Regions from separate parts of the Homo sapiens genome. Here region 1 is linked to region 2. The links come from fine-mapping of genetic effects on plasma protein levels. Region 2 holds a variant in brackets. A gene starts in the other region. All regions are shown on their reverse strands. Region 1 holds the start of TREML2 (triggering receptor expressed on myeloid cells like 2). Region 2 overlaps LINC02356 (long intergenic non-protein coding RNA 2356).

Evidence for each region. PIP is the chance, under the fine-mapping model, that this variant and not a neighbour inherited with it causes the effect. The UK Biobank Pharma Proteomics Project read protein levels with antibody pairs (Olink). The fine-mapping took linkage between variants from a reference panel, not from the people measured, so its PIPs are less certain.
Region 1: TREML2 starts here. The variant in region 2 is fine-mapped to the plasma level of the TREML2 protein (UK Biobank, PIP 0.95).

The regions. Positions count from the first base shown.
Region 1 is chr6:41,197,145-41,202,499 of GRCh38, reverse strand. It overlaps TREML2 (triggering receptor expressed on myeloid cells like 2), which reads left to right and starts at 1,351. Exons shown (of 5, transcript NM_024807.4): 1 at 1,351-1,546; 2 at 4,071-4,391. The coding sequence starts at 1,492. RefSeq lists an enhancer at 1,063-1,132.
Region 2 is chr12:111,385,473-111,390,846 of GRCh38, reverse strand. All of the region lies in intron 2 of LINC02356 (long intergenic non-protein coding RNA 2356), which reads right to left. It also overlaps the pseudogene HSPA8P14. Among named protein-coding and RNA genes, the nearest start is that of SH2B3, 18 kb to the left of the region's middle. The variant T/AATTT (reference allele first, on the strand shown) is at 2,174.

The sequences.
Region 1 (5,355 bases), not on the chromosome of region 2:
TTTCCAACAGGATAGGCCAAATAAGGGAACTATATAACTATAACTAATTAAATATTTTCTTCAGTTTACTTGTCCTGTAGGAGTCTTCCCCTTGCATTCCCCCAGTGGAGCTCCTCAACCTCTTCTGTTTGGAGCTGCCTGATTCATGAATTGTTGTTTGCTGAAATAATCTGTTTAAAATTTTATTGTGCCTCAGTTTACCTTTTGACAGTCCCATCTAAGGAGTAGAAACATGGCACTAGTGAGTAGGGGGAGCATACATAATCACGGGAGTCCAGCTGGGTCCCCACACACTGAAGGAGCAGATGACACAGGTACCGGACATCAAAAATTGATGCTTCTGATTCTAGGCCTTGGGGTAAGTGAAGGGTGTGGTCTTGGGCCTAGTGCTGGGTCATTTCCACTGGAGCTGGTGGCTGTACAGGCGAGATAGCATTGAGCAGGAGGAAGTGGAGGGCACTTGCCTGCGTGCTGACGTAGGCTGGAGGCAGGGGAGGAAGGGGGTCTTGAGATGAGGTGGGTGAGGGGAAGTACTGCGGAGGCTGTAGGAAGCCTGCACGAGGGACTAGGAGTCTAGAGGGAGCTGATGGTGAGTAGAGTCGACAGGAGGAGAGGCAGGGAGAGGGACAGAGAGAGGAGACGTATGGATAGGGAAAAGGAGAGGCTGCTGGGGTGTGTGTGAGACTGTGTGCATGGGCGTGTGTGTGTGTGTGTGAAAGTGAATAAAAGACAAAGTGAGACTGTGAGTGTGAGTGCATGTGCATGCACACCTGTGTGTGAGAGTACAGGAACCCCTCCCTCAACCCAAAATTTATGCCCTGAGTCTTAACAATTTGCATTTTTCCCGCTTGACAAAAGTAAGATTTCAAGTGAGCCTGTAAGAGGTTATTTGCAACAGTGAACACAAGTGACTGTTCTGAGCAGCCAGGAGCCTGGGAGAGAGAGAGAGGAAGGAACAGAAAGAATCTGCAATGAATGAATGAATGAGAGTTTATAAGAACTTCCCTGTGAATGTATATATGTAAGAAACTAGGGTCTGAGATGCTCCATCTCAGCCTAAGAGCCCGCACCCCTGGGTCTCTGAGCCCAGAAGATTCCAGGAAGGTCTATACCTGACGTTCCAGAAGCCTCACCCCAGCCCCCTTGCTGGATCCTAGGGACCAGTTTCTGGGGGAGGTTGGGGAGGGCGGGGAGCCCTCTGACTGTGAGTCCTCCCGGCTTGGGGCCCCAGACTGGGTGGAGCAGCCACACCTGCCTGAAGTTCCGAGGAAAAGGGCGGAAACAGCTGCCAGCACCGCCCTCATAATAGGCTCAATGAATCCCTGCGGTTGGCTGGGGGCAGTGGGTCCCACACTGCCTCACTTCCCTAAATGGGCAGCTTCACTTTTAGAACCCCGGGTCCTTCCCTGGCAGGCCCAGGTGGCACATCCTGTGTCGGGTGGGCCCTCACCTTGGATCTCCAGGCCTGACACTGCCCAGCTGGATGGAACCATGGCCCCAGCCTTCCTGCTGCTGCTGCTGCTGTGGCCACAGGGTTGCGTCTCAGGTGAGGGGAGAAGGGGCTGACTTGTGGAGGAGGGAGTGGGTACAGAGGCAGGAGCTCAGGGCCTTTTTCTTACCCTCCTTACCAGCAGTTTTCTTGTTTAGTGTTTTGTGGGTTGGGGAAGGAGGAGATTAGGGCTGACTTAGCTCTTTACCCTAATATCAGGCCCCAGGCGAAGCTAACCCAGGCCTCCCAAGCCAAGATAAAGCTCTGGACCCTCTCTGCATTGGCTCCTTTATCTGCTAGGCTTCCTCAGGCTTTAAAGCAGAGCCCTCAATTTCCTCACACAAATAGCTTTCTCTGCTTGGCCTCTGTCAGGAAGCCCTGCTTAGTTATGACAGCAATCATTGCATCATGTGTGTTTTGAACTGAATTTGAACATTTTTCTTGAAATGCTGATGCCACATCCTGTCCCTGCCTCTGTCCTGAAGGGACCAGTGTGTGAATGCCTTTCCCACCTCACAGATACCAATGCTCCTTGAGGAACCTCACCCATTCCTGCCCCTCTCGCTGCCATGGCAACCAAGTTACCACTTCCTGTTCAGTTCTGGGCATGGTGGGGGTTGGCAAAACTCACCACTGCCTGTGAGAGGGGTGGGAGGTGTAGGCACACATGAAGACATTGCCCTGGAGACCCATCCCAAGGTCACCCAACTCTGCACCTCCCAGAGGGTAGAGAAACAGCTTCCCACTGCCAGGGCAGAAAGGGGTCTCTCTTGTGCTAAGAAATCCTGGGCTCATCCACCAAATAATGAAGTTGGATCATTCTGTTTAGTTTGCAAGGGACAGAGGGATGCTTAGAGAGGGTGCTGCTTCACACAGAGCCTCAGCTCTAGTGGCTGCTGGCTGGGACTTGGGACGGATATCCTGGATTCTGGTGGGACAGATGTCCTGGATTCTGGGCCCTTGACTGTCACAGCTCTGGGTTCCATTGGGGGAACTGGGAGGCCCCAGCATGTGGGAAAAGGAAGCATGAGTTGAGCATGCACTGTGTGCAAAGCACTGACCTGGGGCAGAATTCTCACAGCAACCTGTGAGGGGTGTGGTGCTATTCTCACTTGACTGATAAAGAAACAGAGATATTTCTGTATCAGTCAAGTGTCTGTTTTGATATTTCTGTATCAAACAGGTGACCTAATCACACCACTAAGTGGTAGAAACAGGGTTTCAACCCTTGTTTATTTTGACTCCAAAATGTGTGCTCTCTGTTCTCTACTATGGGGGAGAGTCTTTTTATATGTGGTTTTTTTGGAAGACTCTGGGGTGAAATTATCAGAAGAGTCAGCTGAGCTTAAGGCAGGCAGAGGGGTGGAGGGAGCCCAAGGCAGCTTTCTCCCTCTCTCTGTCCCCTGAGTCACCCTGCACACCCCAGTTCTGCTCTGTCTCTACCAGACTGTGGATTATGAAGGCTTGGACCACATCTTACTCCTCAGCATAGAGAGAAAGATATTGCAGGTGGAAAGTGAATAATTGTAGAATCCTGTGGTTCACACTCCATTGGGAGTTTGTTTACATGTATATTTAGACAGGCTTGATCTATGGGTTTTATGTAACTAGAATATTTTAAAACTAAACACCAGATGGAATGAACTAAGGAGAGTTATTATTTAAAGAGGACTAAGTGAACCTATTTGTGAAATAAATAACTGTTAATCATATTTTCAAATACTAGATTTTCTTATCTACCTAGTTAGTTGGGCACTGAAATTTCACAACTTAATGACCTGTGTTTGTGTCTCTGCATCTGTCTCACTGAGGGCATGACCTGGGTTTTTCCCACAAGAATTCCCTGGGATGCCGGGCACAGTGGCTCACGCCTGCAATCCCAGCACTTTGGGAGGCCGAGGCAGGTGGATCACGAAGTCAAGAGATTGAGACCATCCTGGCTAACATGGTGAAATCCCGTCTCTACTAAAAATACAAAAAATTAGCCGGACGTGGTGGCAGGCACCTGTAGTCCCAGCTACTCAGGAGGCTGAGGCAGGAGAATAGTTTGAACCCAGGAGGCGGAGGTTACAGTGAGCTGAGATCGTGCCACTGCACTCCAGCCTGGGCAACAGAGCGAGACTCCGTCTCAAAAACAAAACAAAACAAAACAAAACAAAACAAAAATGAATTCCCTGGGAATCCCTGAAGACAGAGCTTGTCACTTTCCCATCAGACTAGAAAATACCATGAGGAAAGGGGCTGTGTCTGATGGAGCTCCGAGTGTAAATGCTGCGTTTCCTCCATTAGACTGGGGACTCACTGAGGGATATACCTGCCTCCTCCATCAGACTGAAAGCTCCCTGAGAGCGGGGGTTGTGTCTCCACTGTAATACTGGAAGCTAGCTGTTTTCAGGGCCCATTCACCTCCCTTCAGATTGGGGCAAGCTCCCTGAAGGCGGGGCTGTATTTCCCCCTCAATCTGTGGGTTCTGTGACAGCAGGACAATATCCACTCTACCCTTCACCATGATCTTCAACTTTCATGATGTCTTCTTCCTCTCCTCTTGCCAGACCTTATTCAATAAGTATTGTCTCCACAGGCCCCTCTGCTGACAGTGTATACACAAAAGTGAGGCTCCTTGAAGGGGAGACTCTGTCTGTGCAGTGCTCCTATAAGGGCTACAAAAACCGCGTGGAGGGCAAGGTTTGGTGCAAAATCAGGAAGAAGAAGTGTGAGCCTGGCTTTGCCCGAGTCTGGGTGAAAGGGCCCCGCTACTTGCTGCAGGACGATGCCCAGGCCAAGGTGGTCAACATCACCATGGTGGCCCTCAAGCTCCAGGACTCAGGCCGATACTGGTGCATGCGCAACACCTCTGGGATCCTGTACCCCTTGATGGGCTTCCAGCTGGATGTGTCTCCAGGTGAGCAGGCTGCAGTGGCTCTGGGACGGGTGGAGGGAGTCCCTCCTGCCCCACACTCCACTAACATCAGAGATAATAAGGATAATAATCCATCAGTGGTCATGTTGCACTGTAGTGTTTTCAGAGTGCCTTTATGGCACTATTCGTGGCACTATTGTCACCATTTTACAGATGAAGATAATGAGACCTGAAAACCCAGTGTGACTCTGAGCTTGTCCGGGGTCCCAGAGCTAGCAGGTGGCTGAGATAAGGTTCAAACTTGGCACTGTCTGTGCTGTGTTTTATTCACTCATTGCTTCAACATAATTCATTGAGCCCCTATTATGGGGCAGGCACTATTCTAGGCTCTAAGGAGACAGTGAGCAAAAACACTCACAATCCTGCACTATGGGAGATGACAGGCACACTTATTATCCAGACAAATAATTGCAGAAAACAAGAGGTGTTCATAAGAAACTAGGAACTGTTTCAAATAATTGCAAATAACTAGAGGTGTTCATGAACTAGTAAGCGACTCGGTGGTGGGGGAGCTACTGAAGTACTGGGGGTCAGAGAACACCTCCCTTAGCAGACAACACCAAGCAGAGCCCTGAATGGTGAGCATTTTCCAGCCCTGTTGAAATCTGGGTGCTTTGAAGAGCACTTTGTCGCAAGAGCTGAATATGCAAAGGTCCTGAGGTCAGAAGGAGCTTGGCTTGTATAAGGCTTATTTAGTCACTCTATATGGAGTGTGAGGCAATGAATGAGGAGGTTGGAGAGTCAAGCAGCCCTGAAGACCATAAGTTGGAATTTAGGTATAAGAGGAAGCTACTAGAGAGCTCAGAGAGCTGTCATGACTTGTTTTTAAGAATGTAGTGGCCACTTGTTGAGGATGGATTGTGAATGGTATGAACACGGGTAGAGAGGCCATTGTGGGCATCTGGCTGGAAACAACAGTGGCCTGGAGTACAATGTAGGCACTAGT
Region 2 (5,374 bases):
TTTTTGTTTGTTTGTTTGAGGCAGGGTCTTGCTCTGTCGCCCAGCCTGGAATGCAGTGGCGTGATCACTCACCGCAGCCTCGACCTTCCAGGCTTGAGTGATCTTCCTGCCTCAGTCCCCCAAGTAACTGGGAGTACAGGTGAATGCCACCACGGCCAGCTAATTTTTATTTTTATTTTTTGTAGAGAGGGAGTCTTGCTATATTGCCCTGGCTAGTCTTGAATTCCTGGCCTGAAGCATTCCTCCCGCCTCAGCCTCCCAAACTGCTGGGATTACAGGTGAGAGCCACCATGTCTCATGTGCCACCTTTTAAAGCAGGACTCATAAATCCTGCACTTGCCAGGTGTGGTGGCTCACACCTGTAATCCCAGCACTTTGGGAGGCCGAGGTGGGCAGATTGCCTGAGCTCAGGAGTTTGAGACCAACTTGGGCAATATGGCGAAACCTTGTCTCTACTAAAAATACAAAAAAAATTAGTCAGGCTATGTGGTGCACACCTGTAATCCCAGCTACTCGGGAGGCTGAGGCATGAGAATCACTTGAACCCGGGAGGAAGAGGTTGCAGTGAGCTGAGATCATGCCACGGCACTTCAGCTTGGTGACAGAGTGAGACTCTGTCTCAAAAAAATAAAAAAATAAAAAAAAATTAAAACAACAACAACAACAAAAACCCCTGCACTTGAGGCAGGGGATGAGCCGGCAGGACCTTCCAGGTCTTTGGGACTTCAGCAAAATTCACTCACACACAGCAACCCAGCCCTTGGCTGGTGTCTCCTTTTTCCCATGTATATACCAGGGGAAGGGGACCCTTGAAGTGGAGGGACTCTGGCCCTCACTATCGCTCCCCCTTCCTCCATGTCCTGCCCAGTGTGGAGCCAGGCCAGCGTGTTTGTGGTGGAGGATGATTTCGGTTCCCTCTTGTGGGTGGCTGGCTCAGCCCACTTCTTGGGTGGGGTGGCCATGGTGGAAGGAAGCTCCGCCTCAGATCCCACCTGGACCACCATCTGCCCCTGCTGGTGGCTAGGTGAAGAGGGGCATCACTGCCATCAGTCCAGAGACTGAGATCTGGATGCCAAACAGCGGGGCCAGGGGACACCAGGTCAGCCACTGACTCATATCCTCGTCACCAAGCACCTGCTATGTCCTGGGCACTGCCAGGTGCTGAGACACAGCGGTGAACAAGGCAGACCAAACCCCCTGCCTTCCTGGACCTGCCTTCCAATGTGGGGAGAAGCCCGCCAAGGGTACATCCATAGTTATCAAGCCCAGATACGTGACCTGCAATTGGCTTCTCCTGGTTTTTCTCCTATGTCACTGGCTGTATCTTCTCATTTCCTTTGTGGGTCCTGCCACATCTTCCCAACCTCCTGAGAAAAGCCCACAGGCCTCCATGATGTCATCTCTCCTCTCCCCTCCTCTCTGCTGCAGCCACATGGCCTCCTGCCTGCGGGCCTCTGCATGTGCTGTTCCCTCTGCCAACAACGCTGTTCCCTGGCCATCTGCATGGTTTGTGCCCTTATTTCCTTCAGGTCTTTGCTCAAAGGCTGCCTTCTCAAGGAGGCCTTCCTCGGTCCCCTCCTAGTAAAATGACAAGCCCTGCAACCCATCCTCATGAACAATTCATATCCTCTTGCCCTGCTTATTTTTCTCCTGGGCTCTTAACTTCAATTCATGGACTGTACGAATGTTATTTACTTATTTTCCCCTCTGGTCAGGAAGGGCAGGGGCACTTGTCTTGTCTGTCTTTAAAAAAATAATAAGTTAAATGAGGTGAAGTTCCTATAACATAAAACTATTTTTTTTTTTTTTTACATAGAGATGGAATCTTGCTATGTTGCCCAGGATTGTCTTGAACTCCTGGGCTCAAGTGATTCTTCTGCCTTAGCCTCCCAAGAGGCTGGGACTACAGGTGTGAGCCACTGCGCCCAGCAAAACTAACCATTTTATTTATTTATTTATTTATTTAGAGACAGAGTCTTGCTCTGTCACCTAGGCTGGAGTGTGGTGGTGGCAGGATCATGGCTCACTGTAGCCTCGGCCTCCCAGGCTCAAGTGATCCTCCTGCCTCAGCCTCTGAATAGTGGGACTCCAAAAAAAAAAAAAAAAAAAGCCCAGTGTACAGGTGTGAACCACCATGCCCTGCAAAACTAACCATTTAATTAATTGTTTAATT[T/AATTT]TTTTGATAGAGTCTTGTTCTGTCACCCAGGCTGGTGTGGAGTGTCATGATCTCAGCTCACTGCAACCTCTGCCTCCTAGGTTCAAGTGATTCTTCCACCTCAGCCTCCTGAGAACCCCGGAATTACAGGCAAGCACCACCATGCCCGGCTACCTTTATATTTTTAGTAGAGATGGGGTTTCGCCATGTTGGCCAGGCTGGTCTCAAACTTCTGACCTCAAATGATCCGCCTGCTTTGGCCTCCCAAAGTGCTGGGATTACAGGTGTGAGCCACTGTGCCTGGCCATTGCCTGTCTTTTTAACTTCTATCCCTGGTGCCTGGGACAAAGCAGTGCCCAGTAAATACTGGTTGAAAGAATGGCTAATGGGAAGCAGCGAAGGCCTCTGACTTAGCGGGAGGGGAAGGGTTGGGGTCACAGACCTTCCTGGAAGAGGCAATGGCTGAGTGAACACTTAAAGGATGAGGGGTGGCTGAGTGAAGGAGGAAGCCTCCTGGGAAGGGGACCAGCACATGCAAGGGCCTGGAGCCTGGCGCACTCTGGGAAGAGAGGGAGGCCAGGCAGCTGCAGCGAAGCGTGAGGAGAGTAAACCATGTGTGAAGAGGCTTGAGGGGTAGCCAGCAGCCAGGATAAGGAGGGCCTTGTCACCCATGGGATGGAGTCTGGACTTGCTCCCAAGGCCATGGGGAGCCATGGAAAGGCTTTGGGCAAGAGGGTGCCATGACTTGATTTCATGAAAGTTCTAAGAGGATCCCTCGGCTGCTCAGTGGAGAATGAACCCTGGGGATGAGGGAGTTGGGAGTGGCAGAAGGGAGGCCGGAAGGGAGGCTGCAGTAACCGACCTGGGGAGAGATAGTGGTGGCCTGGGATGGGGAAGTGGTGGCAGAGATGGAGAAGTGATGGATTCAAGACACGGTTTGGAGGTAAAATCAGGACTTGATCTCGGTGGCCAAAGCCCAGTTCTAGTTCCCAAATTTCCCTTTTTAGTTCTTCTGACTCACTGTCTGCTCTCCACACCTCTCCTGTTCCCAGCCACAAAGATGCCTGGGTGTTCACAGTAGCCCAAACGGAGACACCCTGCGGTCCTCAATGGATGGATGGATGGATAAACCAAAGGTGGCATATCTGGCCAGTTGCAGTGGCTCACACCTGTAATTCCAGCACTTTGAGAGGCCAAGGTGGGTGGATCACTTGAGGTCAGTAGTTCAGTTCGAGACCAGCCTGGGCAACATAGTGAGACCCTGTCTCTACAAAAAATACAAACAAAAAAATTGCCTGGAGTGGTGGCATGCACCTGTAGTCCCAGCTACTCAGGAAGCGGAGGTGGGAGGATTGCTTGAGTCCAGGAGGTTGAGGCTGCAGTGTGCCATGATTGTGCCACTGCACTCCAACCTGGGGAACAAAATGAGATCTTGTCTCAAAAAAAAAAAAAAAATTAGGGTATCCATACAAGGGAACATGATTCAGCCATAGAAAAGAAGAAGGACTGATACATGCCACAATGGGATGAGCCTCAAAACCACGATGCTAAGAGACAAAGCCAGTCACAAAGAAACACGTAGTGTTGATTCCATTCATATGAAATGTCCGGAATAGGGAAACCCATAGAGACAGAGAGCAGATGGCTGGTTGCCAGGGGCTGGGGGGAGGGGCAATGGGGAGTGACTGCTTAATGGATACAGGGCTTTTCCTTTTGGGGTGATAAAAATGTTTTGGAATGATCAATGCTTCCAATTATCAAAGTAAAAAGGAAAAATAAAAGTTTTGGAACTTGATAGAGGTGGTACCTTCATAATGTTGTGAGTGTACTAAATGCTGCTGAATTGTCCACTTTATTTATGTATTTATTTCAAGATGGGGTCTCGCTCCATCACCCAGGCTGGAGTGCAGTGGAGCAATCATGGCTCACTGCAACCTCAACCTCCTGGGCTCAAGCAATCATTCTCCCACCACAGCCTCCTGAGTAGCTTGGAATACAGGTGCCTGCCACCCAGATTGGCTATTTTTTTGGGAGGTGCCAATTTTAAATAGTTTTATTTAAGACATTGCATTTTCCACTTAGAATACAGTGCTTATAAACTACAATGTTACTTCCACATGTTCCATATAAGCATTGAGAATGTCCAGTAATTTACTCTAGCAGCTCGACTTTATTTATTTATTTATTTATTTATTTATTGAGATAGAGTCCCACTCTGTCACCCAGGCTGGAGTGCAGTGGCGCAATCTCTGCTCACTGCAACCTCCGCCTCCCGGGTTCAAGCGATTCTCCTGCCTCAGCCTCCCGAGTAGCCAGGATTACAAGTGTGCACCACCATGCCCAGCTGATTTTTGTATTTTTAGTAGAGACAGGGTTTCACCACGTTGGCCAGGCTGATCTTGAACTCCTGACCTCAAGTGATTCACCTGCCTCAACCTCCCAAAGTGCTGGGATTACAGCCATGAGCTACTACACCTGGCCCCTAGCAGCTCAGCATTAAAACTGCCACAGAATTTGTTACAAATTTGGGTTCTTCAATGTTTTGACTATGTGGAATCATGTGATCTTTATATTGGGGTTGGCTTAATCAACCTCTTTTTTTTTTTTTTTTGAGATGGAGTCTCGCTCTGTCGCCCAGGCTGGAGTGCAATGGTGCCATCTTGGCTCACTGCAGGCTCCGCCTCCTGGGTTCATGCCGTTCTCCTGCCTCAGCCTCCCGAGTAGCTGGGATTACAGGCACCCACCAGCACACCCGGCTAATTTTTTGTATTTTTAGTAGAGACGGGGTTTCACTGTGTTAGCCAGGATGTTCTCGATCTCCTGACCTCGTGATCTGCTCACCTTGGCCTCCTAAAGTGCTGGGATTACAGGGGTAAGCCACCATGCCCGACCTAATCAACCTCTTAAATGGTTGTCCCTGAGGAAGTAGGGACACTACGTGTTTCTTTGTGACTGGCTTTGTCTCTTAGCATCGTGGTTTTGAGGCTCATCCCATTGTGGCTTGTAGCAGTCCTTCATTCTTTTCTATGGCTGAATCCCTGAGGAAGTAGGGAAGTAGAGGGAGGAGCTCCATGACCAGGGACTCCCCCAGGTGAGCCTCCTGGCGGTCCTCCTGCACTTGGGTCCAGCTTGGTAATGATGGGGTTACAGCCTTTCTCCAGCTCTTTCTGCTGATGATCAATTTCTTCCTTCTCTGTCATCTGATTCTTATGGAGCCAGTTG